Regions from separate parts of the Homo sapiens genome. Here all the other regions are linked to region 2. The links come from fine-mapping of genetic effects on gene expression. A gene starts in region 2. Each other region holds a variant in brackets. All regions are shown on one strand. Distances are between the middles of the regions.

Region 1 (10,892 bases), 29 kb after region 2:
TAATGTTCTAGGCTAAATAAAACATTTGCCATCTGATGACTTGGGTAACTTGGGGTATATGCATCAGCTTATTAAGTATATGGCAAAGAATCAGTCATTAAGCTTGTCTTGTTATAAAATAGGATTTGAGGGCTGCAATAAATGCAGAATTATGCATGCATGAAATAAAACTTTGGTTGTAGGCTTTCTGTAGCAATTCCATTCATCTGAGTTCCATCCTGACTTGAGGGTCTTTTTTTCAAAGCCTGTTTTGATTGTTTGTTTGTTTGTTTGTTTTGTTTTTTCCATTCCCCATCTCAGAGGCAGACCTGTAAATGCCAGTATATGTTTTTCGTAAACGCTTTCTCACAAAAAGATAAAAATAAAGCATGATCGGGTGTGTGATTATTTTCATAGACACAATTCAGGCTTTATTTTATAAAGCAGAGAATGTACAAGGGGCTTATCAAACACAAATGTCAGGACATCCCTAAGTGTTGGCAAGGATGTGAGAAGAACTGTCATACATTACTGCTAAGAATATAAAATGGTAAAACTACCTTAGAAATCTGTTTGTAGTTTCTATTAAAATGAACCTTACAACTGCACTATAACCCAGCAATTCTATTCATAGGAATATATACCCATATATTTGCATATGTCCAAAAATACATATATAAGAATGTTTATAAATGACTTACTTATCTTAGCCAAAACATAAATAGATGCGGTGTTTCCAGAAAATGGAATACCATATAGCAATTAAAAAGAACAAACTACTGGTACAACAGTACTGTCCATGTATAACTTAGTCTGGAAGAATCCCACACATATTTTGTTCAGTTAAAGAAAGCAGACAAAAACTGTATGTGTGTATGTGTGTGTGTGTATGTGTGTGTGTGTATAAATGTACACATATATACTTATATATGTATATATATGTGTACATACATAAGTATATATATATACACTCTTTGTTATATGTATATATGTATATATATATACACACATATATAAAACATTCAAAGACAGGCAAAACAAATCAATGATGATGGACATTTAAATAGTGGTAGAGGGAAGAGTACAGTGGTGGAGGGAGGCACATGGTAGCCCTCTAGAGAGTGGAAATGTTTTCTATCTTGCTCTCAGGGATGTGTACATGGGTAACCTGTCTCATTAAGTTGTATACTTAAGATTAGCATACTTTACGTACACCTGGCTATAGGTATATTACTCCTCATTTAAAAAACTAAATAAATAATGTCACCTGGACCAGTGGCTCACACCTGTAACCCCAGCACTTTGGGAGGCTGACGCAGGTGAACTGCTTGAGGTCAGGAGTTCAGGATCAGCCTGGCCAACATGACAAAACCCCATCTCTACTAAAAATATGAAAATTAGCTGGATATGATGGTGCGTGCCTATGATCCCAGCTACTCCGAAGGCTGGGGCAGGAGAATCCCTTGAACTTGGGAGGTAGAGGTTGCAGTGAACCGAGATCACACCACTGCACTCCAGCCTGGGTGACAGAGTGAGACCCTGCCTCAAGAAACAAATTAAATAAATAAATAAATAAATAATGGCAACAAACGTCAGGATACTTTTGCTATACCAAAATTGCTTAATTCCTTCTTTCATAACTGCAATCTTCTTCTTGGTCCAATTTAAATAACAACAAATGGCCTTGGTTAGATTTCCTAGGTGTTACGTTAACAAAATCAGTTCATCTACTCTGATGTTGGTAACATGGACCTGTTACTGCAGAGGACAGTTGTCATATGCTGCATCTAGCTTTGACCCAGTAGCCATGTGACTTGGGTTGGTATTTTGGCTTTGCTGTATATTATCTATGGGACCTTGGGCATGTCACCTTACCCTATTCAAGTCTCAGTCCATTTATCTAGGAAGTGGGAGTAATATCAGTATAACCTCATAGGGATGAAATGAGAAAATATATGTGAAAGTGGTTAGCTCAGTGCTTGGCACAGAACAAAATTTACCTAGCCATGGTATCGAGAGAATTAATACCAGTATTTGTGCTAGCATAAAGAGCAATTGCAAAGGTAGTAACAGAATTACTAGAGTCACATTGACCTGTGCAGACCATAGCCTAGACAGCTGTGTTTTGAGCTACAAGGATCACAGTGAGGGGAATATGAGTGCTGGTAGTTCTAATGATATTGCGGCCATATCATGTCAAAATGGAAACCTCCATTCTGGCTGGGAAAAAAGGGAATGTGGCCTGTAAGATATTTGCTCCTGGATCTGGAACAGCCCATAATTAAGGTAGGGCATTTATCCATGTTCCTGGTGTCACCAGACCCCAAAATAAAGCCAGATGTGCCATGTTCCTGCCTGCACCCCCACCTGTGGTTCAGTGGGCAGATGGATCACATAATTCTCCATAATGATTCTCCCCCAGTGGCTGCCACAGGACAGTGTGTGATTACTGTGCAGAAAAGGAAACCAGGGGTTAAACCTTGGTGGAACCCATGTCTGGTTAGATCATTTATGTTGGTAATTACTTTCCGTCACCACAATGGAGTGTGTCTGGTTGTTCATTATGGGAAAAGTGATTTGCTGTGGTGTCCACATGGAGAAGGCTGTATGACTCATAGGTTGGGACCCAGATCAGGGAATGACAAGTCCTGGATAGGGCTGATTCAGCCTGAGATGTTGCCACGTTTCCTGACAAAGCTTTAACACTCAGAGGTAAGAAAGGCGTGCACTCAATTAGCACTTAGAAGATAGATGGATGATTCTCCCAGCAGGTCGTACCCTTAGCAACAGCAATGGAAGCTGCCTTTTGTGTAGTACTCACTATATGCTAAGCACTTATGTGCAGTGTGGCATGATGACCTCGCATGGTCATCTATTCTGTCTGTCTAGGCACAATTCATCCCCACTTTAAAGATGATGAAATGAAGGATTATAGGAATGAGGTCAAGCTTGTAGGTAACAGAGCCAGATGTCAAACTCTATCATGCAGGATTCTCAAGTAGGTGCTTCCCAAGAGGACCTGGCTGACTCTTTGAGAGTCTAAACTTCTGCTGGCTCTGACTAGGCTCTATACTGAGGCTCTCCTTAAGGATGATCAGATTGCTTTACTCAAAGGAACTTTGTCTGTATTGGGCCAGTTATCCTTGTCCTATATATCAGCTCTCAATCTCCAAACGAAACATTACATTTATTCATGCAGGGTTGTAAGTTGATGGTGGCTTCTGGATTTTTCCAAGAAGGCTGACCACACAAAGAAAAATCTTCAGGAAAACGCAGATTCAGAATAACTCAGCTTTTACAGGTGAAATCTCACACACATTTTTAGATTCCTAGAAGATCCTAAGATGGAAAGAAGAGATATGAAACCTTACGTTGGCTCCACCGAAACACAAGCTCACATCTCAACGCACTAAAGTACCACAATAGTTTGACACTAAGACAGTATCCAAAAGCTTTGATGACAGAGCCCAATAAATAAAAGTAGTTACAATTGGCTCTTATGCCTAGTATACAAGATGTGTTCAGTGAAGTGTAGTAATTGTTTGTCATTCTGTAAAAGATAGATAGGTATTAGTTTTTATCTTCTGCAAGTGAGCCAAGAGCCTTCTTAAAATAATTCAGCTTCCAGACAAGACTCTATCCCCCACGAGAGTCCCACACACCATTTTGCATGGAGGGTAGATTCCACCTTTGCCCATGGGCATCAAGTTCTCCTGGACCAAGTTGAAACCCACTTCTTCTACAGAATCATGGGAGCAATGTGTCTTCCAACCAGAGGATAGAATCAAGCTCTTCTTAATGATATGGAAGACTGGAGGAAAAAAACAAATGCACAAGCATTTGATTGAGAGGAACTTATGCCTAACTTGCAATGGAATTTATTTATTCCCATCCACTCTGGGGCTGCTAGGAGCCACTGTGGCTGGCTGGTGTAGGGATATTCTCCACCAAGCCATCTCCAGGGGCTGCAGACATGCACTCACAGAAACAAGTTGCATGCATACAGAGGGTGCTATGGTGGCCTGAGATTGTAGCAACTGTGCATTGAGAGACACTAGAAGTTGAAAAAATGGCAGGCAGGGGTGAGTTGCAGTCACATGTCCCAGATTCACATCTGGTTAGAATATTTTTAGCTCAACACATTTCTCGTCACTGAAACTGAGCATGAGCTGTCACATACATTTCAAGATAGGGCCAGACTTGACTCTGTTTCCTATTTTTCAGCAGCTAAAGGCCCATACTTCAGAACTCATTTGGGTGATTATAGGAATGATGAAGTCATGACAATTTCATCATCGGGAAGGCCTGCCATGTCTTGTAAGTGATTTGATGTTTACATAGATCGGGCTTGGAAAATAATAAACTCTCAGGAAAGATATGGACACATCTCCCTAAGTCACAGAGAAGAAAATGCTAATTGCAAGGAAGAAACCAAAGCAATGTGTCCCCAAAGTTGCTCTGTGGAAGCCCAAATGTAGCTACCTTTCATGAAAAGACAATGGATGCCTATCATAGCATCATTTTAGAGATCCTCAAACTATATCAGCAAACAAAAGGCTCTGAAGTCCAGCAGTTATAAAACCTTCATGGCAGGATTTCCAAGTCTTTGCTCATGAAAACGTTTTTTTGCCCAAGGAACACCTATTACCTGGAATGACTTCTAGGAAATGCTGGGCAACAAAATGGCTTGTGTTGTTGCAGACGTCCAGAAAAATATTTTCTCCTAATTTGCAAGTCCTTAGAGGTGCCTCCCAAACAAAAGTCCTGCTGAATAGATTCTATCTGGCAATAATTAGTTCACACTGATTTTCAGAGAAAGAACCAAGAGGCTGGAGTTAAATCACACTCAAAAATAAAAGAAATCCCACTTCCGGGTATATCCCAAAGGAATTGAAATCAGTATATCAAAGAGATAGCTGCACATTAACGTTCATTGCAGCATTATTCACATTAGCTAAGATATGGAATCAACCTAAGTGCCCATCAACAAATAAATGGATAAAAGAAATGTGGTCTATATAAACAAAGGAATACTATCAGCCTTTTAGAAATAGTAAATTCTGTAATTTACAATAACATGGATGAACTTGGAGGATATTATGCTAAGTGAAATAAGCTAGGTAAAGAAAGACAAATACTGCATAATCCCACTTGTATGTGGAATCTAAGAAAGTTGAGTTCAAAGAAGAAGAGAGTAGAATGTTGGTGACCAGAGACTGGGGAGGGGTGTGGGTGGGGAAAAGGCAGATATTGATCAATGGGTACAAAGTTTCAGTTAGACAAGAGGAATAAGCTTTAGTGATCTATTGCACAGAATGATGACTATAATTTTTAAAAATGCATTGTACATTTCAAAATTGCTAAAAGGATAGATTTTCAATGTTTTACCAAACAAAAAAATACACATGTGAAGTGCCAGACTTGGTAATGAGGCTCATTTTATTACAAGGTAGCCATATCAAACTATCATATCTTACCTTATACATATATACAATTAGTATTTGTAAATTAAAATAAATATAAAAAAAAATGAATGCTTAAAATATGAAAGAGAAGTTCTCAACTTTCTTGTGATTGCCATTCAAGTTCCTTTCTCGGAAAGGAAGTCAAAACTCCAGGTAGAAGGCCAGCTGCAACCTTCAGAAAGTTCTAAGCAGGGCCTTGGTCACTGACCGTGGTTCTAAAGTTGGAAGAATAAGTTTCTAAGTCCTTTTTCCTTTCTTAACTTCAGTGTAACTTCTAACAACTTCCTTAACCTCCTCAACCCTCCCCATCCTGATCTTTAAAATGAGAAAAATACAGTAATACCAGCAGCACCTACTTGTTTGATTCTCATGTGGATAAAAGGAGGCAACAGAAGGAGAACTGTGAGCCTGTTGTTAGCATCCATCCAATCCATGGTGGCTATTAGGACAATTGGCCATTTGTGTTACTCTCCAGTGTTCCCATAGCAAGCTGCACTGAAACCCTTTAAATG[G/C]TGAAACTTCATTATTTTTTTCCAGGGCAATGAAGAAGGTGGCAGCCAGACTGAAGGGAAGAGGGGCTGCAAGACTTGGAGTTGGTGATGGCAACCCTGGAGAGGAAAGGAACATGGCCAAGAGGTTGGGATTCATGCTAGATCAAGAAGGAAGAACCCAGAAGCAGCCCAGAGGCTTCACAGCTACATAAGAAAAAAAAGGGGGCCAGGCACGATGCCTCATGCCTGTAATCCAGCACTTTGGGAGCCTGAGGCGGGTGGATCACGAGGTCAGGAGTTCGAGAGCAGCCTGACCAACACAGTGAAACCCTGTCTCCACTGAGAATACAAAAATTAGCCAGGCATGGTGGCACACGCCTGTAATCCCAGCTACTCAGGAGGCTGAGGCAGGAGAATCCAGGAGGCGGAACTGCGGTGGGCAGAGATCACGCCACTGTACTCTATTCTGGGTGACAGAGTAAGACTCCATCTCAAAAAAAAAAAAAGGATGTGACTATTGCCAAAACCAACTTGTAAAACATCACCATGATATGTCACCAAGCTACCTACGAGATGCTGGGCATACCTTCGGTGGAAGAAAGAAACAGCTATACAACTTTGGGTTGCTTCATTTTTCTCTTGCATTTCTAGTTCAGGTTGGTTTTGGTGTTCTGTTGTTGTTGTTGTTTTGCATTCCAAAAAAAATAAAAAATAAAAAGAATTGCTATCATGTGAGCCTATGGGTTTTTCAAGAATATGTAGCCTGCTCATTGCTTATATTACATGGGGCCTGGGCATGCAAGCCCGAGTGAAAGGAGTACTCACCCCTGCTCAGAGTCCACGAGGGGTGCTCAGATGGGCACTTGGGAGGTGGGTCGGGGCTTCACTTGTGTGTGGGTTTTCCATGGTGCTGTAACAAATGATGAGAAACTGGGTGCCTTTAAACAAGAGATGGAACCGAAGTGTCGGGAGCTCGTGCTCCCACTGAAGCCTCCAGGCGAGAATCCACCCCGGCCTCCTCCAGCTTCTGGTGCTCCTGGCCTCCTTTAACTCCAGGCAGCATCACTCAAGAACACAATGAAAATAGTATTATGAGACCCATTTTACGAATAAGGAAATTAGAGCCCATATTGATTAAGCAATTTGTAAAAACGTGCATAGATGTTTAATGGTGAGAGTGGAATTTGAATTCATGCATGAGTGGCTTTAAAGTTCGTACCCTTAAGCACTAGTTCAGCTGTTCTCAAACTTAAATACGCATAATAATAGCTTAGGGGAACTGATTCAACATAGGTTTCCAGCCTCAGAGGATTTGGAATCACTGGTATGGAGTGGAGCCTGAGAATGTTCATTTTAGCAAGGAAGGTGATCTTGGCGTGATTCTTAAGAATTACACTCTGTACAGAAAGTTACACTGCATGCTAAGCTCACGCCCAAAGTAGGGCGACCAGCTGTCTTAGTTTGCACACAGAAAGTCTCTCATGCCAGGGAAACTGGGATAGCTGGTCACCCCGCAGGCCTCACTTGAACCTACACAAAACACTTTTAGCACAATGCCTGGCACATGGTGGACCCTTGAAAAATATTTGGGGAATGAATGAAGGAAGGAAGGAATATAGCTCCCAGTGGAAGCCTAGGGTTGACTGGCTTGGCTTCCCTGCAGCAAGAGATTTGAGGAAAACTTCAAAGGCTAACTCAGAGGGACAGCTTCGCCTGCTGCCCTGAGGAGCTGGTCACAGCCTTGGAAAAAGTGGTACCTCATCATGTTCCCATTTGTGCTGACGTGTGCAGGCGACGCTTGTCCTTAATGCAAAAAGAAAGGAGAAGAAGGCTGCAGTAAATCTCTTCTGTCATGATTACTCTTCCTGCCTTTTCACTGTCTAAACCCTCTAAACCCTCAACCCTCCCTTTTCCCTTCTGCAGAGAGACCTGTCTACTGAGCAGTGGGAGGTGAGGGAGGGACCCTGGCATCGGGAGAATGAATTCCGTTCACGCTCAGCCTCTGACCCATTGGTGCTTCTTCTTGGCAAATCAGTGAACCTGTTGGGACCTGAGAAATGGCACTGAAAAGCTATGGGGATTGAACTCCTTTCTTTTTTTTTTTTTTTTTTTTTTTTTTTTTTGAGACGGAGTCTCGCTCTGTCGCCCAGGCTGGAGTGCAGTGGCGGGATCTCGGCTCACTGCAAGCTCCGCCTCCCGGGTTCACCCCATTCTCCTGCCTCAGCCTCCCAAGTAGCTGGGACTACAGGCGCCCGCCACTACGCCCGGCTAATTTTTTGTATTTTTAGTAGAGACGGGGTTTCACCGTTTTAGCCAGGATGGTCTCGATCTCCTGAACTTGTGATCCACCCGCCTCGGCCTCCCAAAGTGCTGGGATTACAGGCGTGAGCCACCGCGCCCGGCCTGAACTCCTTTCTTATGTCACAAGGTTGGCCTGTGGTATGTGCGTGTGGACAGGACTATGCTAAACCAGCAAGGCTCAGATAATAAAATGCAGTTCTCTTAAACATCCATTCATTCATCATTCCCTTATGCAATGGGTGGCTTGAAGGCCGTGTTCAGAGCTAAGGCCAGCACAGGGCTTTTGGAATCTTACTAGTTCAGAACTTCTGTTCCTTGAGGAAGACTAGCATGTAACAGATAATCATATAGACCAGATACATAATTATAATCATTACATCATGACGTGTACTAGAAAAAAAAAAAGACAGATTCATCAGACCACCTAATATGGGGACCTGACCCAGTCTTGTGGCTTATGGAAGATTTCCCTGAGGAAATAACATTAAGATGAGGTCACAGGTTGAGTTGGAATTCGCCAGGTGAAGAAAGGGTGGAATGGCATTCTAAGACAAGGAAACAGCAGGAGCAAACACGTTGTTACAAAGGATAGCACAGTTTTTCAATCCATCCATTTTTTTATGTTTCCCCTCTTGCTCCCTCTCTCCCTCCTTGTCTTGTTCTCTCCTTCTCCTCCATGTCATTCTAACATCTTTCTCGTTTTACTTCTAACGTGGTCAATATACATTCATCTGCTTACTATTGGTGTTGTTAAACAGATATTATTGCTGGATCCCCAATTGGCACAAATGCTGTGATGGACTTTCCTTCCAAATTTCCATCTCTAAGCATGCCCCAGCATAAACACTGGCATTCAGTGGTGTGAAAGAAAATACAAGGCCACAAAAAAAACTCCTCATTCCATTGAGTTTTGCATTACATTGCAAATCACTCAAAAACACTATTTCTGGTACTGACCTTGAAACAGCTTCCGAGGTGTCTTGGGCTGCTGGTGGATCCTGAGGTCTTCAGGTGGGCAAGGCAGCCACAGTTGAGTTGGTTCAGCTTGCAGATTTGGTAAAGAGCTTGGAAGACATTTCCCCTGGAGTAGAAACAAGTGGCATCCTTCCAGGAGAAACAGAACTCTTTTCACGTCGTTCGCTCTGATTTGTGCTACATTAAAATAAACCTTCAGTGTCAGCTTCTGGTGCGAGCCTTAGGACTCTTCTAAATGCATCATCTTCACAAAGACATTTTCGGTGTTAATCAACAGAGCGCCATGGATTTGACGCTCTGGTATTGGAGTACAGGTTTTGCAGTTATTTATTTACTGAGAGGGAAACAGAACAGTGGTTCCATTTGCCACTCCTAAATTTATTGTCAGTCCTTCTGCGTGGGGTAAAATTGTTAGCCGTCTTCAACAGCTCTCAGAAATAAGCATTCCAAATATATTCGCCTACTGTACAAAGATGTGCTGATGCCACTCCTTGCAATTTTGCCAGAGAGGATGGGAAATAGTAGACGTAACTGGTAGGAAATCAATCTTGGGAAGAAAACAAAAACCTAGGACTTTTGCAAAGGCTATGAAATAGCAGGAATTGCAAAGGTGCTTCCTGGCACAGCCTACTTAAAAATGCCCGGGTTAATCACTACAGGCATAAAACAGAAGAGAAGGAGTGTTCCCATATTAACACAGTGGGAAAGGGCAATAGGATGAACTTTCTGTGTAAGATGGTCCCAACCAATGATCAACCAATGGGCCCACCAGCGCTTCCATCTGCATCCACTACCTGGCAACTCATACCCTTCTCTCTTCTCTGCCAAATGAAAGAAAAATGGTCTGATACCGGCCAGAAAATTAGAATTGTGTAAACTGAAGCAATCTGGAAGTCCCCAAACCTTTCTGCCCGAGGGAGAAACTTCCCAAAAACAAACAGGAAGTGGAACAGGGATTTGCAACTATTTTACCACCCAAGTCAAAGGTGTGCTGGAGTAGAATTGCCCCAGGTCACGGGAGCTGATTGGAAAGATCTCTTCCCAACTCAGCATTCAGTAACCTCTTATCGGCAGCGTGAAATCGGCCATGATTACCAATCAGGACTAAGCTAATTTATCAGCACACTTCTGCCTAACATCTACGGTTATCCACTTCCTACCCCTAGATTATATAACTATTTATTCATTCATTTAATTCATATATATTGAGCCCTTATTAGGTGCCAGCCCTCTGGAATAGGAAATCCAGTCCCCATTTTACACATGTAAAAGCTGCAATTCAGAGAAGTGAGTTGACTTGTCCAGAAACACTTAGTGCCAGCCCTCTCCCAGGCACTAGGAATACAGGATGAAAAAGACAGATTAGGTCGCTGCCTACGTGGATTTTAGATACCATCCCCTTTAAAATCTGCATTTATTATATAATTATTCATTTATTTTTCATTTTTAAGAAATGGCATGAAAGCATGTAAAACTGCCCAGTGGAACTTCCGATCAGTTGAAAGACGCAATGTGGTCACAATGAACTAAAGTCCTGTCACAAAAAGTAAAGGCATTTTATATGGCTTTGTGGGTGTTGAAGATGTCTAAGTGTGTGTCTGATTTTCGTTCATATTGCCAGTCACCAAAAAGAGTCATAGATAAGCCCTCGGGGTAGGACTCCGAGTTTCCATTTTATACA
Region 2 (10,892 bases):
TGCTCAATTCCTTGCTAATATGCTTGTGTGTGTGTGCCTAGGTCTCTGGACTTTGCTAGTGGAAAGGGCTTCGGCTGCCAAGGGACTCTCAAATTTGGGATGTCCAAAAGAGGTTGAAATCTACCGTACTGGAGTGATCTCCCCACATCAGGAAATTAACCACCTCACTTCTGTGTTCATTTGTAGATGACTTCTCACCTTCAACAGGGGTATGTTAGCAAGCTACATCTCTCAGGTCCAATAATCCACCAACCGGAAGTCAAGGAAGCTCATCACTAGGCACCAACATGGGTCTATGTTTTGCATAAGGGTGAATATTAGTGAGACACCTGATTTATGTAGCCACCCAGGGTCCCATTTCTCAGGATTCCACCCACAAGTCACATGGAATAGCTACTCAGGTGTGGTGTGGCTATCAGAGTCCCTTACCAGTTCACACCCAGATAAATACAGAGATGGATAGTGCATATTTAGGAAATTTATTCGTAATTTGGCACAGTAATTTTATATCTACCTAATCTAATAGTTTTTAAATGGGGCTTGTATTTTGCATGTCTTGTATGTTTCATTTCTTCTAATTATTTTGGTTGTGTTTTATAAAATTATTATTAGTCTAAAATGCATATGAAATTTTTTTTTAAAAAACTATTTTTTATATAGTTTGGGAAGGATTAACCCAAGGAATCTTCACCAGTTTCCTGCAGTGAGCTAAGGGCACAACACAGCTCTGTTCTGGGACCTCTGGTCCCACTCCCACATCTTTTGGGCCGCTGTATGGGGGACAGGGGATAGATGAGCCTGAAGCAGAAACGCAAATGTGAACTTTCTTTAAAGGCTCCTGTTAACTTGAAAAGTCATAGAACTTGCACCACATTCCAAAATATATCAACTTTTGTTTTAATATAAAACCGAGTCTTTTTTTCCTTTATTTTCCTTCAAGACGTCAAACAAAATTTTAACTCCAAGGAGATGCACAAAGAGTTGTTAGTTGGTTAGCTAGTTAGTTAATTAGTTAATTAGTTTCATCCTGTGGTTTTATATGCCTTCAGAAACACCACCATACCCTCCTGGGGAATGGCAGTATTTGTTATTTTGTGAAGCAGCTTTGCAGAAGATATACAACAGTATTTAGGTCTCAATTTCAGATTTAAAAGTAACTTATATTCTTATAATATAGCAGTCAGTGTAGCCTTAATACATAAGAGCAAACCTTTATATAGCATTTATTATGTGCTAGGGAATATTATAGGCACCTCTTCTACATCAGCTCGTATAATCCTGAAAGCGCTCCTTTGAGACAGGTGCTATTAATATTATTGCCATTTTATAGGTGCAATACTGATGCACAGGGATGCTAACTCTCTTGCTCAAGGTCGCACAGCTAGTAAGTAGGTGGTAGAGCTCAGATTTCCACTCACGCAGCCTGGGTCCGGTTCTTGCTTAGACACTGGACTGAACTTCTCGTAGCCTTCCAAAAGGGGCAATCTCACAGGCTGTGTCAACTCAGTAAACTACTAGCTGCATGAAGATAATGCATTTGACCGAGGACCAAAGACTTATAGGGAAGTTACAGTTACACAGAGTTCTACGCTAGACTCTGCTTGGATTAAATTGATTGGGTTCTGAAAAAGCAAAATAACTTTTAATGCACATTTTGCTCCATATTCTGCTACCTAAATGATAGTCTCAAGTTGAGTTGAAGAGGAGAACAATTGTGTTTGGGGCTGTCCGGTTCAAGGCACCCTGGCTAGAGCAATTTACTGGAAAATTTGGGGCAATTTTATAGCCACAAGTAGACCCCATCATTTCCACTAAATTTTTTGGCCATGCCTTATTTAGTCATGGGTGTGAAGATTCAGCCTTTGTGAATTATCCACACGCCAACCCACATCAGCATTTGATTTGGTGTTTCAAGCATCCCATTTGGTTTTGAAATTAGTAGAAGAGGATGCTATTTAGGGGACATGTGAAAAAATATATAATCTGTCTTGTGTTTATGAAAAAAAAATTGCTGTGTTCTGATTAACTACACGTGACCCTGAGATATATCCCTGTGAAAATGACCTCCATTTGCAGCCTGATTTTGATTTGCAGGCTGTGGAATTAAATTCCACCTCATTGGTTTTATGTTTCTCTCACCGTTTGTCCATTCATTCACCAAATATTTATTGAGCACCAACTATAGCCAGACCCGATGCTAGGTGCTTGTGTGGAAGAAGAGGAGGAGACTATTCAGTGATGAATAAGACATGGTCTCTGCCCTTGCGAAGTTCATGGTTTTGTTAGAAAGACAGATATATACCCGTATAATGATAGTGCAGGGTATGTTCAAATCCCAGGCCAACACCTATCACAGATCCCAAATTAATTCATTGTTTAATAGCTTGGTTACTTTGGTCAAGGAAAATACCAGTTTACACTACCTGCAAATTAGTAACTGAACTAGTATTTATTATTTACCTACCTTGAAAATGAAAATAGTCGACTGAATGCCTATAAGGCTGACTTCACGATGTTGAGTACAAGTGGTGACATTTGTCTACTTGATATACTCATGTCAGAAACAAAGCCAACAAGCAAAGACCAGGAAGTATTTCTCTAATGCACCTGCATTTATCCCAGTCTTTGTTACTCCATTTGCTCCCGTCTTCACAAAACACTTCTATATCTATAACAGAATTGCCTTGTGGCAACAATCTCTGAAGATAGGCATTCTCATCTAGGGAGAAGTTAAGTGACTTGCCTAAGGCCACCCAGCTAATTCATGGTAGAAGAGAGCCCTTGAAGCAAGTCTTCTTATTCCAAGAACTGTGTCTTTTCTGGTTCATCGTGCCACCCTAATTATTTACTGAACACCTATTGTACATTCAGTATTAGACTCACTGTATGATTCGACGGCGTAATTTTAATATCCAGATGCTGGGTCTTCTAGGTCTCCTGGCCAGTTGTTTTATGAATGTAGGTTAACAGGCTATTCTATACCCAAGACAGGAATGGCCTTTTACATTACCACTCGTGAAGAACTCATTAAGGAAAAGTAGAAGCTTCCAGAGCTAGCTCTCTGTAGTGCACTCAGAGAGGTACCTTGCCTTCCCAGCCTCACAACTTTAAGTTTTCCTTCATTTATAAACCCATATGATTCTCTGGAGCCATTGGGGATGGTCAAACAAGACAAAACAAAACAAAGAAACACAAACTATTTTTTTCCCTTTTTTTGTTATTGGTTTTGACTTAAATGGAAAACTCAACTCAGCTTTTTGAAAGTCAAAGTGGCCTTTGTGTTTGGAAATTAACTTTTACATCCCCCAGGGGGTAGTTATTACTCACTGGATACTTTTAAATTTAAATGTGATCAATTAATTGATGGTAAAAATTATATTATGTAAATGCAAATTCAGAATTGAGTTTCGTGTTCACAGTGGCCTGAAAACATTTTAAAAGGTCAGGTTAGGCCTGAGGAAATTGGAAGTTTTAGTTCCTGCTATTAAAAAAGAGAAAAAAAGAACAAAAGAAAGAAAAAATGAGTTGGCAACAAACTCAGTAATGAAGACCGGAATTTTTTTTTCTTTTCTTTTTGACAATGTTATCACAATCTAACTGTACCATAGAAACTTCAATGTAAAGGAATCAGGCGAGCTTTTGATCAATGCTTTTTGTTAGAAATCCTACTCTACAAGCCTTATCAAGCTTATAAAGCTCATAAACACTGGAACCCCAAACAACTTGAGAAGATAGAAAGACAAAACCTGAGAGAGAAAAAAAAATAGAAAAGAATGGTGATAAAATGAAATTGAAGAGGGTTACACAAAAGACTCTGGAGCCATTAATTTTTATAGCTGATGCAGCTACTAATATTTTATGAGGTTTGGAAATATCAGTATAAAAAGCACCCTAATATCTGCCCTTGTTCTCTTTCTGTTGTTGTTTTTTTACAAAGATAAGCCCATCGTATTTGTACCTTGAACACGGCCTTATTACAGTTAAATATGGTAGAAAATGTTGTCTCATTGGAATCTTTCCAAGTCAATGTTTTCGTTTTTGTTTAGTTTGATTTTCCACCTTTTCCAACACAAATTCATCGACTCCTTTATGTGCCATTTCTTTCCCTTGTTGTTTTTTTTCTTTCTTTCTTTTAACTTATCAGATCTTATTTCCAGTTAAATCGCAGCAGGGTTTATGTTTACTAGCTTTCCTGGACTGTACTGCGTGCGATGTCTCCATTTAAATGTAGATTTTGACTTTACACTGGAGAGGTAGGTGAGAGCCTTTCCGCTGCAGAATTAACATCAAGGTGAAAATATAAGCTCAAAATAGATGCTATGTTTCCATAAGTAAAGCTGTGTAAGTCCAGTTTGAGTATTCTGAGCCATTTATTCGCAAGTTCCCTTGTACCCCATAGGGGAAAACATTGTACAAATCAGATCTATGTATTTATTGAGGCCATAACACAAAACTTTAGGTTAAGGAAATCAAATGCTGAAGGGTAGCCCAGAAACTGTTACAGACACTGATCCAGTTGCAGTGGGGGGCTCTACCCATGACCTTTGGAATTAATGATAAATAGGACTAAGAAGGTGTATTTAATAACTGTTCACATCTCTTTTCCTTCTTCAGGAGCCATTTGCACTATGAAGAGATGGAATACAAAATATATACTCTAAATAAAGCTTAACCAAGTGCAGAACATAAAGCATTTTGAATCATAGCCCCACCCACACACATTTTTTTAGATTAACTGCAGTAGATATCTATGAAATTCATTTTAAAGACAAAAAAGAAATAATATTTTACCCTCTGTCTTTTGCCCCATTTTATTGATAGGCCATTAAAGAGGGCAGCGAGAGAAGTTAAGTATCCATATTTATATCTAGATAACTTATACTGTGTTTCTTCTCAGCTATTCATGGACCAACCCTACTCCCAAATGACATGGATGTGGAGCTTTTAGCACCATCGAAATAACTCAATGAAAAAAGTACATAACTTTGTTGTGAGCTCTTCCAAAAACCTGCACCATTGAGCCTGTAAGTAAGTTGTCCTTATAGAAGCGTATCTTTTGATTGGGTTTATCAAAAACGTAGTGCCATGCTTCTCTTAATGACCCAAGTAGAACCCTAATCATTCCTTCGGGAAATGTTTCCTAGCCTAAATTATAATGTATATTAGTCCACTACCATGGTACAAACTATGTGGTCTAAAAACACTGTGTGTCCTCTGGACTCCAGTTTGCCCATTTGTAAGCTGAGAATAATAATAGTACTTATACCATGAGCTATTTGAAGAATAATGTCATTAAATGCAGGAAAAGGGTTGAGAACAGTGTCCGGTACAGATAAACACTCAATAAATATTGGAAATCCACTTACAAATACGCATGGATATGTGTAGATACAGAATTCTTTCTTGAAGACTTCAGGAGCCAGAGAGAAAGGAGTGGCTCTAACTAAAGTCAAGTATCATTTACTCTCCTGGAAATCTCGATTACAGGGGTGGAAAAGAACTTCCACAAACTGTAGGCTAGTGATAACTAAATGGTAGGAAAGTAAGGTCAAAAGCAGCAGACCCTGGCAGAAACAGGGGGGCAAGAAGTCAAAAAGATTTTAAAGAGGGCCCCCAGGTGCCTGACTTAGCTCACAGGCTCCGGGATCTTCGGATAAATTCAGGGCTAAGAAAATGAAGATGCCCTTACCACTTTGACAGCCTGACCAAGAATGCCATCCTTTGCACCTCATCTGGTCTAAATACTCAGTTTACAAATGCATGTTGCTCAGCATCATGTGTTATAGATGCTTTATGTTTATTCAAGAACTCAGTTTCCAGACATGCGGTTTACCGCAATAGACAGCTGTTGATACTCTGATCCCATGAGCATTATAATATGTTTTAAAATTGCGACACTTTTAAAACCAGATGTTCTACATAAATTGTACGCAGGGGGAGAAAAGAGAAAAAAAAGAAAGGGGAGAAGGAAAAGAGGACAGGCAGATCTGTCAGTTGGCAAAACACCGGAGCTCCTCAGGCTCACAGAAAATTCACAGCAAAACTAAAGTGAACCCCATAAAGCTTGTTCTGGGTTTTCTTCTGCAGAAAAGATTAAAGGAAAATTGTTTTAGCAGAAAGAAAGCTCCATCCTCAGGAAAGGCAAGCAAGGGAGCTGCAGCTAAGGGAAGGTAAGCCCCTGGCTCTGCTGTGGTTCTGAGGTTCTTGTCTCCAGCTGTTTTCCAGGATACGTGGGGTATGCACTGAGGACTTCACTGGTTCCTAATCTCTTCTGAGGTCCTACGGGTATTGCTCAATTTTACAGCCTCCACTTCTCTCCCAAGAGTTCCTTTTGGTTGGAACAGAGGCTTGTAGGGTGCAACATTGTAGGTATATGTTGTGAGGTCATGTGGTTAAGAGGAGGGCCTCTTCCTTAGACTACCTGGGCTCAAATCCTGACTCCACCACTTAGTGAGCTCCCATGGCTATATTACTTCATGTAAGTCTCGGTTGTCTCCCTCTGTAAAATGGGACCATGATGTCACCTCCCTAATAAGGAAGCAGAAGCATTTAGCATAGTGCTTGATGAACTGTAAACATCATATATTCTAGATACTTTATATGTAAGACCTTTTTACCAATTCAAACTACTTAAGACTGAGTTGCTTTGAGAGGAATTTGGCATCTTTACTTCTCCCCTGGAATAATTGTATAATTTTGGGTGTCCTCAAGTCAGTCCTGGAAATCACGAGTCCACCCAATTGGAAATGACCAGTTTGGAGAGAAGCGGAGTGGTAGCATGCAGTCACGGAAAGGCGGCACCATCAGACAGATCTGGGTCCTCACCCAGGATCTGCACTTTGCAAGCTGTGTGGCCTTTTCCAACAGCCTCAGCTGGCCAGGCCCTGACTTTCCACCTGAATTCTTAGGAATACATTTCAATCTCAGAGAAGGTGTGAAATTAAGAGGAGCCAATTCAGGTTAAGTATCTCGCATACAGTAGACACTCAATCACTTTTATTTCTCTTATTCCATCATCTACATGGCTCCTGAAAATACTTTTTTGTATATTTATCAAATAGCTTCTGCCCAAGTACAGAATTTATCAAATTATATTTCTATTTGCTCATATACCTCCTCTGCAAAAATAAATAAATAAAATAAAGAAATGCAAACAAAAATAATAACAAAGCAACAGCATCCGAACAAAATAAAACAAAAGTTTTAATAGATATACACTGACCCCTGCTTACCTCTCCAGTCCAATCTCATGATTCCACCCCATCCCGACCTCCTACCCAGCCACCCTGAAACCAGCCACCTCCTTCAAAACATCTCCATCTCCGTCACCCTTGGCCTTTGCATTTCCTGTCAGATTTTGGCCTCATACCCTTTTCACTGTTCATATCTCAGCTTAGACTTCAGTTCTAGAAAGCTTTCTCCAATATTTGCCTCATTTCTTTGTGTTCCCTTGATACTTAATTCTTACCCTCATCCCAGCTAAGAGTTCACTGTATTATCTTTTCCCGTTTAATTGTCTCTGTTATTGTACTATAAAACATTTGAACGAGGGGGTGGTGTCCTGTTCACCATGTTACCTTAGCATCCAGCACAATTCTGTTCCTAGAGAATTGAATAAATACTTGGTGAAGGTATAAATACATAAGCGCATGGATTGAAGTTTGGATGGATGGGTGGGTGGGTTAGTGGGTAAATTAATGACAAGGGAGGGGATGAATGGATAGATGGATAACTGGATAGATGAGTGGATAGATGGATGGATGAATGGATTGATGGATGAATGGGTGGGTGGATAGATGAATGGATGAGCAGATGGATGAATGGATGGACAGATGGGTAGATGGATGGATGAATGGATGGATTGATGGATGGTTGGATGAATGGGAGGATAGACGGATGGATGAGCAGATGGATGAATGGATGCACAGATGGGTAAATGGATGGATGAATGGATGCATTGATGGATGGATGAGAGGATGAATGAATGGATAGATAGATGGGTAGATGTATGGATGAATGGATGGGTCAATAGATGAGTAGATGGATGAATGCATGCATGGATGGATGGATGGGTGGATGGATGGATAAATGAGTGAGTGGATGGATGAGTGGAAGGATAGATGGGTGGGTGGATGGATGAATGGATGGATAGATAGATGACTAGATGAATGCATGGATGGTAGATGGATGGATAGTAGGTGAATGAATGGATGGGTGCATGCATGTATGGGTAGATCGATGAATGGATGGGTAGATGGGTATGTGGATGCATGAATTAATCACTTAGGACTGGAAAAGTGGGCATCTGACGTCAGCTACATTTTCTGTAGTTTAGTTGTAATGTCTGCCAGCTGAATGTGGCCAGGAAATCAACAGTGATAGTGAATTGACTATGTGATCAAATCTTTTCTTTGTGGTAACGACTTTCTCTTTCTGGTAAGTTCTGAAGTCCTCCGTGTGGCCTACTTCGCTGTCACAGGTCAGCTCTGCTTACTTCTCCAGCCTCATTTCTCATACACCGTTATCTCTGCTCCTCTTCATCTGCGAGGTCTCCCTGACTACCATCTCTTAGCCATATCCTTCTTCCACTTTTGCCCGCCTGACTCCTACTCATCCGTTTGGGCTGAGCTTCAGTGTAGCTCCTTTAAGTGAGTTTTTCTTGACCTGTAACCACCTTCTCCCTAAGTCTCCAAACTGGATTAAGCCTCTCTGTTATTTGTGCTTACACCTGCTTCTCATGTTCAACATAGCAGTTACCACAATTCTAATTATGTGGGAATTGGTGTGATTATTGGTTTAACGTCTGCCTCCTCAACTGCAGTGTGAACTCGAAGGACCAAGTTGATAGTATTCACTGCTGTAACACCAGGGCATTTCTGGGGTCTGGCAGAGTATGTACTTAAGAAAAAACTCTTATTGAAATTAATATTTCAGGGGTTGGGGCCTATGAATCCCATAATATTATTTCTAAAATGCAAAATTGGTAGTAAATGGCATGAATTAATATAAACGTACTAGATGTTTATAGCACATGTCCCCCTGGTCAGTCAAATGTGATTGATTAGTCACAGGGATGGCTAATACATGAAATATGAAATCTCAGATTTCATATTAGTTTTTCAAAGAAGTCCACAATAGATCTCCACCTTGGAAAAATGAAGTGAACATCCACCACTCTGGCATCTGAGAAAAGCCCATATTATGAAAGATTCTTGAAAACTATCAGGGCCCCTGTCCACAGTCCCAGACAATGTTGAGGTTTGTGTTTTCCATCTGTGCCAGATTCCCCTTGACAAAAGCGTCCTTCACAGCTGTATGTTACACACGAAGAATATTCTGGGTCACTTGAAGTCATCAATGATTCATGCCTGTGGAATCAATCTGTCACCAAGAAAGACATACATGGAATAGAGCAATGTGCATAACAGATTCCCTCCTTCAGGGAAGAAACTCTCCAAAAAGTTTGGGGGAGAAACAGACCTTAGTGGTCCACAGGACAGATGTGAACATCAGCCTCAGCCATCACCAGGGTGTCAGGAGGAGGGAGAGGAGAGGGAGAAGAAAGCAGCTAGCTCCTTTTAGAATGAGAGTATGCAACCCCAGGGTGACTAGATACCAGGTCACACACGTCACATAAAAGAGTCAATGACAGTAAGGCAGCAGGTGTTGTTTACTATGTGCCAGACACTGTGCTCAGGGCTTGCCAGGCATTCTTTATCCACTATTTACTTAAATTCTTACAATCACCCAGTGAAGGCTGGTACTGTTATTATCCCCCTTTGTGTAGGATCAAACAGAGCCTTCCTTCTTTTAATAATGGGGAAATGGAAGCAGGATGAGATTAAAGGTCTTGCCAAAGGCTACATAGTTACTAAGTAAGTAGCAAGACATAATTTGAATCCATTTCTGTGCAATACTAAAGCCTATGATCTTTCTTCTGTCTGCTATTATGTCTTGACCCATGCCAAAGTTTCTGAAACTCACAGAAAAAGGAAAGCTTTCTGGCAACTCAGCAAAGGCAATTATGAACAAACCCAGACTGTACTTCGTAAATGTGTATGTCTGGCTGGAGTGGACCGTGAGTGTTGGGGAGGAAAGTCAAGCAGGTTAGAAAAGGCTGACTTGGTCAAGGAGCATCTCAATACTTACAGATGGGTTCTAGCTTCCATCCTCTTTGCAACAGGGAGCCCGTGACCCATTCTGAGTGGCACTATGGTTTGTTAAGAATTCTTTTTTGGATTGAATTGTTACAAGAGGATAGAGGCAGTGAAGCCAGCCAGAAGGCTGTGCAATGACTTATTTGAGTAGCCCCAGACTCATCTGGTTATCCTTTCACAGAGAAACCCCTGTAATTGCCCAAGACTTTGGCATCAACTCCTCACCAAGACATTCAAGGCCATCTACCTCTTTAGCATTTTCTAATGGCTGTCCCGCCACTTGACACTTTAGACCACTGATCTTCTAGGTGTTCCGATTGGCTACACCTCTGCCCAACTCAAGAGCTTCATACATGCTGCTTCCTTTCCTCTAAAATACTCTGAAGGTTCTTTAGAGGACCAACTCTTATCTGTCTTATGAATCCTTCCAGCTGCAACATCAGGTGCGCTTCCTCTTTGGGCATCTTTCTGACCCTTCCCTTCTGGATGGCCCTCTTCTATGTATACCTACAATACCTTGACTTTTGCTTTCACCTCATTTATCGTCACTGTATTAGTTAATGAAATAAGTGTGCAGTTACCTCATTAACCTCCCTCCACCCCATCATTCTCCCTCTCTCTGTATTTCTTGAAGCTTTATGATGTCAAGGATGATGTCTCTCTTTTTCATTTTCATGTCATCTCTCCTTAGCACAATATTTGTTCAAAGAATGGATGAATGTGGTGAGGATTCAG
Region 3 (10,892 bases), 36 kb before region 2:
CTCAAGGTGTTTACAGTCTGGAAGAGACAGTCAAACCTACAACTAATTGTAGTAATGCAAAAGGGAGCCAAGCGCATTAAGTGCCACATTGTGGCTTAGGAACTAAATAAGTTGCTAACAGGCGGAGCAGACTGTTAAGACTGTTCCCACAAAAGGAGTAAGTGATAAAAGTTCATGCAGAAAAGCTCTGGTTATGCCAAATCCAAAGCTTCCTATTTGGGCACACTGAGTCTCTTCCACCAGTAGGAATTCCTCGAGACTGGGATCCCCAATGCCTGAAGGTCACTTTCTTTTCCCTCAAAAAGAGTGACATCTAACAAGAGCTTGCTGTTACTAGTGAATTCTCAGGACTTAGATAGAGGGTTCCTTGGCTCACTCAAGATGCCCTCCCATGAGAACATGGTTGGTTTGCAAAGGTAGGGAGAATTTTTAGTTGGTTGTACCAGACACTGGAAAGAAGAATGAAAGAGGTCATGTTTTGATTCAGCTATGGGAATTTTTACATATAAAATGAGCTTAACTCATATTTGCAAGTATGTGTATTTTGGATTACATAAGACAAAATTGTTCGAAATTACTTAAAGTCATCTCTTGGTCTTGAAAACCCCATTGCTGAGAGCAGGCGTATTTTTAAGACAGAGGAAAACATGAGATTCATTCATCTCATTAGTTTCCATTGAGCCATTTCAAACGACGTCTAGGAAACATATGTTGACAGCGTAGTGTCAGATCCACATAACAGTATCAGAGATAGGAAGGCCCCGCTATTTTGAGGTTGCCTTCTCCATTTTGTATTTTGTGTTTTTTTTTATGTTTTCCAAGTTCTCCAGGAGGAACTGGGACTCTATTGTCCTTATTTAACAATATTTTAAAAATAATACTGCTGTTTGTGTGTTTTCCTTTGTTTTTAAACTTTGAACCAATCCAAGATTCTTAAATAAAAAGATAAAGTCCTTGGTCTTTAACCAAGGACTTAATGTCCCCTTAAGGGTTGGAAATAGAGGCACGAAGGCTATATTATCCATTATGTTAGCTTAGCACTTACTATGCCCCAGGCATTAACCTCAAAACTTTACATGCTGTAGCTCAAAGAAATCCTCAAACTACAGTTTTGAGGTAAGTAGGTGCCAGGACTGTCCCCATGTTACAGAAGAGGAAATTGAATCTTCCAGATGTTAAGAGATACTTCCAAGTTCATAAACCTTGTGAATGGTGAACCTAGATTCAGTCCTACATTGACTGACTATCCCTCCCTTGGTAACTATCAGCTACAAGCATTCTACTACCAAGGCAGTTCAGCTCCTATCTCTTATTTCTACCTCTATGAAGTATGGTAAGCCCTGAGCATTGTCCTCTCTATACCTGAGAAAAGCGCTCTGCTGTCTCCAACCTCGTGTCAATTCAAGAGCTAAAGCTTCCATGAAAGTTCTCAGATCTCCTTCCTGATCTTCAAGTTAGAGAGATCTTCAAGATAGATTACATGTATAGGGTTTCTCCCTATCTTGGAAACAGATACGCCAGCCCTCCTCAAGCCTTCAGATGACCGCAGCTCCAGCCAACAGCTTGAGTGGATCTCTTGAGAGGTCCTGAGCTAGCAACATCCAGCTAAACTGAATTCCTTACCCTCAGAAACTGTGTGAGATAATACATGTTTGTTGTTTTAAACGGCCGTATTTGGAGTAGTTTGTTAATGAGCAATTGAAAACTAATACCCCATTCTATTCCTGGGATCTGATACCACAGAGCTGAACCTCTGACAATGAAAGGGTCACTATTGGAATAAACCAGGTTAAATAATGCATGTAGGGTTAAGCCATAGCTCTCTGAATTTGTTCAACTACGGTGTGACTTTGTCAGCGTGAGACACTCAATTCACACAGAATTATTTCCCCTCCCTCATTTATTTGTTCCCTACAGAAGAGAATGACTAATTATATGGGTATGAAGTTTAGAAAATTGGGGTTCAATTCCTTTGTTTGCTGTTTATTAGGAAGTCACTGGAAATTGATTTAACCTCTTTGAGATCTGATGCTTCAATATCAAATAGGGAGGGTAATAGTACCTTGTGGGGTTGTACAATTCCAGGGGCCACCTGGACGTCATAAGGATCCACTTAAATAATGCACATCAAACACTTAACACAGGGGCTGGCACCTAATAAGAACTCAAGTAATAGTACTATCATTATTATCAGTAATAAAAATTATCAAGTTTCCTGATACCAGTCAATAGAAAGTTTCTTTAATTCTAAAGGCTTGCCACCATTTAACATAATCCTGATAGACAATGTGTCATAACAGCTAAGTGTTCTAAAAATGTGTTCTACGCATGGATTTTCTGCATTAGAATTCTCTGAAGTGTTTATTGAAAATGCAGATTCCTAAAACGAATCTCAGAACCACAGAGTCAGAATCTTTGGAGTGAGAGTTGGGGAAGGAGCAGTGGAAATCTGCTTTTTTTAACAAGCTCGTGCAGCATTCTAGCGCTCAGAAAAGCTCCAAGAGCACTGTTGTAGAAGAGAGAAGATTCATCTCGAACTGAAGGGTCCAGGGTTCAAGTCTGATCTCTGACATTTACTAGTCAAAATAAATTAACCTTTCTAATTCTCAGTTTCTCATCTGTGAAGAGTAAGCATAAATCTGCCTTTCTTAGCTCAAAGAGCAATTATAAATATCAGCTGAGATAATAAAAACATTAACTGACTTGTATCTAGTGTGTACATAGTTGACATAGTTGCTATTCCTATTTTGTCTCATTGAAACTCATGACGGTTCTGTGAAGTCAGTCTTCCTCCCTGTTGAAGTTGAGAGCAGAGGTAGCAGAGGTTACATTACTTAGTTCAGGTCACACCATGACGGTTACTGCATAAAGCAAGGTCTTACGATACTAATTCAAGACGCATTTTTCATTCCCTAATGTTGACTAAAATCGAGGTGCCATGTCAATTTGCTGTTGCTGTGCATTTCTTTAACTGTGACTACTGCTTTGTTGTGTTACCTAGCCCAGAAGAAAGAGGCCAAGGGAGGGATTACGTTCTAATTGCCCAGATCACAATTATACATGCAAAGAGCAATAATTATTTTAATACAAAAACTGTGAGGTCATTGAAAATGCATTTCTTTAGCAATGACATTAGAGAAACTGTCAGTCTTGATGCGTCAAATAGTTCTAATTTGTGCACCATTAAACTAACATATCTTAAATTATGAAACTGATTACCTTTGTTCAGTTTTTCTGGGTCATTATTTTGTTTCTTCTTCATAGGGTTTATGCAAGGGAAAAACATTTGGAAAATTGTTTGTATCCCCTACATGCTCCGTGAATAAAGAAAAGAGCTTCAAATGGATGCTTTATATTTCTATTAGTAACATTATCTGCTACTATACTATGTGAATTGGCTGGATAGGTTTTCACTGAGTTTGGAAGGTAAGATTCTGAGATGGTTTTACTTAAACTATAGGATGTGGTGTACACGTCAAATAGATATTTGGGTGCTAAGGGTGTGGGCTCCAAGAAATAATCACACATCTTCCAGAGTAGCTAAACTGAGACCAAGGAGAAGCCTCTGTGACCAGGAAAAAGCAAGCCATATATATTCAATGCATTAAGCAGAGAAAACAAACCACTTTCAAATGTGAATACAGCCCTGAAGTCACAAAGTAACATACTGAACTGCCCGTGCTGATTTGAGATCCAGTTGATTCTCACATGGTAACTCTAGGCTGATAGTTCCAGGATGAGATCTATACTTAGCACAAGTGTCTTCGGTCAGATTCACGCAGGAGTAGACCTAGAGACAAGGATTCGAGTGCAAATGGCTTCTTTGGGATGTGTTCTCAGAGGCACTGGAAGGGAGATGGGCAAGTTTAATGCGGAAGGAAGCATGGAAGCTATACTAGGGTGCATGCATGGAAGTGTAGGATTTTTATGTGAGGAATTGTGGCTTAGTCATAATGGGATCTCTGTGACACTGAGTTGAACACACTTCAGAGTTACTGACCCAGGGAGCAAAGAAGCTGGAAGGTATTTATCCACCAACTCCCACCTATCATGGATGGTCCCAGGGTGTTAAGACACTGGCACGGCTGACATTCCCTGAAGTGGTCAGATAAGACTCTTGAGTGGAGAATGAGGAACGCTTGCAGTTAAATGCCCTTAGCTTCACTGGCTAGATGAAGAATTTCCTATAACCCAGAAGGCTGTGTCATGGCTAAGTTTTTGAGGGATAAGAACTATTATCAATTTGCTTAACTTGAATGATAATATCATTACTAGAGTAATGATCTCTACACTAGTAATGCAGCAATAGCCATTTATTGAGTGACTGCCATGTGATAGTTACCATAGTAGGTCCATTACATATCTCATTTAACCTACACAATCATCTCCTATCGAGGGCATTATCATTCACATTTAACAGATGGGGGTGGTGGGAGATTCGGAAAGCTTCAGTAACAGGCCTAGGATTACACAGTTGGAAAAGAAAGCCAGAATATGACCCTAGGCCTTTGAGCATAGGATACATCCTCTCCACATAGCAGGTTGTGCATATACATTTCTTTAATAGATGAATTGAATATCCATAAAGGGTTCTTTTTAACTTTTGACACTTCAAGTTGGTATCTTTGTTGACTTGCAGCTGTCTTGACCGTTTTCCAAACCTCACTTCTCACCTGCTTGTTTAACCTTCCTAGAAGGCTGAACTGTATTCTGTAATAAAATGCAGATACTTTTAGTCATAGATGAACACGTTTGTACCTTCTGTGTGTATATAAGGCCTCGGGAAATTGACACTGGAAATTTAGGGCCAGTCAAAGAGGCTCAGATACCCTATTACGGACTCTGTATGTAAACACAGTCCCCTGACTCTCTATGGCACCTTCCTTCCTTCAAGTTAAGCGAATGTGCTCCATTTAGCTTTATATAATATCTAGCTTTTTTCCTGTGCTGGTTCACAACAAAGATTATCAAAATTTAAGAGAAATACGTTGGCTCTCCAATAAGGTTTGAACTATGCAGATGTTGCTGGGATAGAATTTAAGAGATAAGCTGTTTCCTACCACAGGAAGCTTCTGCTACTCGTAGTGGGTTC[A/G]TAGCTGAAAGATAAAAGTTCAAAAAAAAAAGGTTTGAAATGCTATGAAACTCTTTTCCTAATGCAATCAAGCTGAAACTCCCGGGTAACCTGGTCATAGGAAGAAAGATTCTCCAGGGTGATTCAGCTTTTAATCTCTAGGAGTCTCAGCCCCTAGCATGCTGTGTTCATCAACTTGAAGCCATAAGAAAATGAGAGTTTGGAATAGTAAACTGCATAACCACTTCTGTGTACCTCCCGCCCATCCACCCCTAATCCCACTCCCAAGATGCAAGAGGGAAACCAAGGCCATTTTTTCCAAATGGACCAATGTCTGAAATACTGGCTTCTATTTCTGAATAGCTCACTTCTGAGCTTGTTTGCCCAACTCTGTAGTTCAATTAATTTCACGCTTCAGGGATTTGTAGGCAAGTTGACCAGTCTAACGGCAAAAATGAAATTTTATTGGAAAGGGTGTTTGTTGGGAAAACAAAAGACTCAGGGGCTAATTTGGTAATAGGCTGTGGAGACTTTCTTCTCAGGTCATTGGTTCAAATCTAGAACATGCTTGGCAGTGACGGGAAATCATTACTATTTGATGGCTGCCTGACAGGTAGCCAGGAATCTGTTGGTCTCCTGTCCAGCAGCTCTCTAGGCAAAACAGCAACAGTGACAGGAGGAACACCAACAATTACATGGAAACACAGGAACTGAATTACCAAGTTTCTCCCTCAACAACTTGTTACTTAACTGATTAATAGCTTTGTCAATTTAACAGATAATGACCCACCAAAAGATTCCAACGCCTACCTCTTAGGTGTGAAATCTGAGTAAAACCAGGAAAAAAAAAAAACTGGAACATAATGAGAAATGAAGAACTGAAGAACAACAGAAAAAAAAATTACAAATCTTTCTGTCAATCAGAGACTTATAACTGAGCTAGAACATCTATACGTTTATATAAAAAAGGCCAAAAATCTTAAAAGGCCAGAACCGGTACCAGGAAAACCTGCAGAGACAAACCCCAAATAGAGTGACTGCGTGGAAAAAATTGGCAGATTTCTATCCAAAAGGTCCTTATGACACTTACAAGGCTAAGAGCCACGTACGGCTTATTATGGGAAGGTTGGCGCCATAATAATTTCGGCATAGCCATTCTCAGCTGGAACCAAACCACCAGATTGGATCTCCACAGGAGTCCATTCCTAATGCAAGCTGGGCCAGATAGTGAGAACTTGATTCTAAGCAGGGGAATTTCCTTATGTCCATGGGCTTAAGTCAAAACCTTTAAAATTATTTTAATGTCATTTTTCTTTTTAAAGGGACATGAAAGTACTAAGAAAATTTTAGGCCCTGAAAGGGTTTCTTTGGACTTCCCCTCCCTGCTTTTGTAATTGCCTTTTACGGAATGGAACTTTCAATTTATTCTGAATGTTTTACTCTGATATGAGCAACTTGACTCAAGCTTCATATTCTGACATGGGTTTCTTGTACTTCCATCTAAATAACACTCAAGACAATCACAAATTTGAGCTCAACGTGTGTTTATTCCCTTAGATTATAAACCAATGGAGTTTCAGAGAGGTTACAAGATTTATCCAACATGGCTGTTGGCCAAAGAGAAGAGTGTGCTACAATGACTTAGAAATAAATGTGTGAAGCCGGGCAACTGGTTATTTTGCAGAAAGCACCAGAACCTACCCATCTAAAGGAGGCTCATGCCCTTCAAAGTACACCGGTGAGAGACAGCGTGTTGGTTTCTATGTGGGTTACTGCCCCTGGTTTTGCTGCAGTGATATCATGAACAACCCTCCAAATCTGAGTGATTTACAAACACACCAGGTTTGCACGTTGACTGTGGCTCAGCCAGCCTCGGCCAGGCTTCACTTCACGCCAGCTCCAAGTGCCTCTCATTTTAGGTCCCAGGTTGCAAAGGCAGCATCTCATAGGGGAGTGTCCTTCCCATCGCAGTGGGCAGGATCAAGGAAGGCAAGCAGAAACACACGGAGCCTCTTACAGACTTGGCTTGAACTAGCTCTTGATCACATCCGATCACATCCCATTGGCCAAATGGGAAACACGACCAAGCCCAAATTGGAATGGTGGGTCAAGGGGAGAGAGAATGTTTGCTGAACTTTAATACAATCCACCACAGTCATATAATTTAAAGTCCTCTGCTGAAGAGTGATACTCTTTTATGACTTAGCATGTGTACTAACAACTCTAGTGCTAACATTCACGGAGCAACTTTCTGCTTAGTACAGGAATGTGCTAATCAACATACACATCCATTACACCATGTTATCCTGTCAACAGACCTCCAAGGGAGGAACTTACCCCCATTTGACCGAGGAGCAATGACAGCCTTGCGCAGCGAAACCCTGCACTTCAGCCCTAAGACCTGCACAGAGGACCTGGGATTGAAGCCCATGCATTCTAGACCCAAGCCTGCGCTCTTCTGCAGCCCCTGGCTCTGTGCTGAAGACTGGACTGGTGGGAGGAGGGCAGCAATCCCCCACTTATCGATGGGAGATTTGGCTGGGACCTTCCAACCAAAGCAGGCATCACTGTCACTCAAAGAAGGAAGGATCTATTTTGGAAACAATTGGAAGATGTTTGGCTAACAATGGAGGCTAAAGTGACTGATAAAATTTGGTAATCTCACTTGAGGTCTGAAGTGAGATGTGACTATAAATTAAAGAGGCTGACTTTATGTGCCTTGGTACCTGGTTTAGAAGAAAATTCTGAAGCAGTATCCCCATCCAGTCATCATCCGCTGTCTGCAATGGAGATTAGGAATACCTTTACTATCGTGGCTCATGCATTATTAATTGTATATAAAGGAATGAGTCTGCTACTCCAACATAAGTGTTCTGAAGGGCAACTCATTAATATTTTACATGTATTTGACAACTTTTAAGCATCCAGTACACACTGTACTATGCATAGGACATTAAAAACAAAAACAGAGACGGTGTCTGCCTTCAGGGAGCTTACAGTTTATAGGTAAAGACAGACCTTTGCTAGATAAGCACATTACTGGTCCTATAATTACAAGCTGGGTACACATTTTTTATTAATATCTGAAAGAGAGGGTCACAGTTCCAGGAGAGCATATAACCAAGATGAGGAAGTCTTCCATAAGAAGTGACAGAAATCTAAAAAAGGAGAGGGCCCCACATAGGTGAAATGTGTATGTGTGTGTGTGTGTGTGTGTGTGCGCGCGCACATGCATGGACTGTTTCTGTGACTGCGTCTGCATGTGTTCATGAGTGTGTGTTCTGTGCATGCATGTATGACTGTGGAATGAGAGACGGGGAGCATTCTAGACTGAAGAGACAAGATGTACCTAGCCCTTGGGTGGGATGAAAGGAGGACAGTGTTGTCATCCAGCAGGGCTTATGTAAAGGGCTGGTGCCTTGAGTTTCCTCTTTGGCTGGGACTCTCCCAAACCCTCTGTCATGCAGCTGCCTCTGAAGAAGGCCAATTGCCTGTAACTCTCCTTAACCTAAAACCAAGTTCAAAAAGAAAAGATGTCACCCCTACTAAGATAGTCCTCAGCATCTGCTGCAGTCCGTATTTTGCAAAGGGAGACACTCTACAGCTATGACAAATTAATTCCCATTGCCTTACAAATAATTCAGGTGTGGCTAAGGAACTGGACCCTACACAGGTTAGAAACTGCAGTAACAGAACCAGCCACTTGCCATCAGCTAGTGGGGTCAGTCCCTTGCTTAGGGCATTCAAAGCATGTTGCCAAAGGCTCACTATGTTCCAGATGCACAGGAGAGAGAGAAATGACAGGTGCAGCCCTTCTTCCCATTAAGGAGTTCCTGCCTGCTGGAGAAAACACACCCACAAGCATGCCACTAAATACAGTACACTGAGATAGGCTCCAAGAGTTGTGGGCAACACTAAGAAGAGACCCCTCACTCACATTACGGACTGGGATGTCAGAGAGAGATTCTTGGAAGAGTTGAGGGTTCAGAAAACTTACGGACAATTACTAGTAATTCACTAAGCAATGCAGGGGCACAGGTAGCTCTATCAGAAAGAACAGTAAGTACAACATCATGGAAACATGCAATAAATAAATAAATATCCATACGACACACACACACACATACACACACACACATGAAGAACACATTAGAAAACACAATATATCACAATATAAATTAGAGCATTTAGCCTGCAGATCAACATTTCACGTGGAACAAGTTTGTGAATTACTAAGCCTCTTGTTGCTCAATCTGCAGCAATATTGCTTTATGTTTTCCTTGCTAAAGAGCAACTGTGCTTTTTGCTTCCAAACTCATCTCATAAAGCCTCCTTAAAGTGCCACTAGAATTACTACCTAAACTCTTGTCTGAATATTGCATATTTTTGGAATCAGGATTGCATGCGTGGTTGATTTTGGTGTTACCAGCGCGGTTACTGTGTGTGTGTGTGTGTGTGTGTGTGTGTGTGTGTGTGTGTGTGTGTGTGTTTTCTGGGCTACAGTGTCCCTGAGCCCTAGAGGACTTCTGCACAGCACATAGCACCAACAGCTGCAATGGGCCAAATAATAGGATTCCTTACCTCCAACTCTCAGTTAAAAGTCATCTGCACCAAGAAGACTTCATCCAGCCAGGAGTCACCTTTTTTTCTCCTTTGATTGGCCATGGGAGGACTTGCTTCACTGTGTGTCCTATGTACATATATAATATCTCCTACTTGACTGGGGGATCACAGGGTGCCTTGCTTAATCCATTTGGGACTTAGTATAGGGTGATAATTACAGGCAGAGCTTCAAAGTTCTGCTACATTTCTGCCACCAGATTGCAGGCAGGTAATCTTACACGCCAAGCCCTGTGTTCTTCCTTTCAGAATGACAGTTCATCAGAAAATATCTTTTAGGCATTTACCATGTAGCCACTATTGTGCTAGAGGGAAAATAGACATAGATCTGGCATGGCTGATTAGAGAGAGAAAGAAAAACAGAGAGAGACAAAATAGAAGTAAATAATATTTGAAACAGTAAAGGGAATATAACTGAAGATATATTACAAATTTGGAAATTGTGAGAGAGTAAAAGAACCATTTTAATAATAATACATTTTAAAAAGTAGATTAAATAGACAAATCATTAGGAAAGAAAACAAGTTTGAACATTTTCTAATAGGAAAAATTTCCAAAACTTCCAATACAAAACTGAAGATTTCAAGGGGACTTGTAACATTAAGAACTGGATATATATATATTTATTTTTTAATTTTTGAATATATATATTGAATATATATAATTTTGTCATATATATTCTGATTGCATATATATAACATATATTTATACTCTGAGTATATATAACATATATATTCTGATTCAGTCAGAATATAGCTATATCCTATTTTATCAGATTATATATATCTGTATATAACAGATTTTATATACAAAGGGTATCTAAGTCTCTCTGTCTCTCTCTCTCTATATATATGTATGTGTGTGTATATATGTGTATATATATATATATATTTACACATATATACACACACACACACACACACACACATACACTGGTATATATGTCAAGCTAGTCAAGTAAAATTTATAGTTTAATCTTACCTATGAATAAAAACACAAAACAATCCAGAATAACACCTAGCAAATCAAGCCTATTAATGTGTTACCCCAATAAAAAATAATAGTAACAGCAGCAACAACAACAACATATCCTAGTCAAACAGAATTTACCATTGGAAAGTAAAATTAGTTTAATAATGAAGGTAAAAATATCAATCAATACTATTAATTATATTATCAAATTAAAGGAGATTACTTATAA

What was found. PIP is the estimated chance that this variant, and not a neighbour inherited with it, causes the effect.
Region 1: its variant is fine-mapped to the expression of LINC01228 in tibial nerve (GTEx, PIP above 0.99).
Region 3: its variant is fine-mapped to the expression of LINC01228 in whole blood (INTERVAL, PIP 0.96).

What each region holds. Positions count from the first base shown.
Region 1 is chr16:79,793,599-79,804,490 of GRCh38, reverse strand. It overlaps LINC01229 (long intergenic non-protein coding RNA 1229), which reads right to left. Exons shown (of 4, transcript NR_104660.1): 2 at 6,761-7,000; 3 at 5,801-6,052; 4 at 3,148-3,318. LINC01228 (long intergenic non-protein coding RNA 1228) reads left to right here. Exons shown (of 2, transcript NR_170199.1): 2 at 5,982-6,656. Among named protein-coding and RNA genes, the nearest start is that of LINC01228, 28 kb to the left of the region's middle. The variant G/C (reference allele first, on the strand shown) is at 5,957.
Region 2 is chr16:79,822,266-79,833,157 of GRCh38, reverse strand. LINC01228 (long intergenic non-protein coding RNA 1228) reads left to right here and starts at 6,008. Exons shown (of 2, transcript NR_170199.1): 1 at 6,008-6,170.
Region 3 is chr16:79,858,129-79,869,020 of GRCh38, reverse strand. No RefSeq gene overlaps it. Among named protein-coding and RNA genes, the nearest start is that of LINC01228, 36 kb to the right of the region's middle. The variant A/G (reference allele first, on the strand shown) is at 5,093.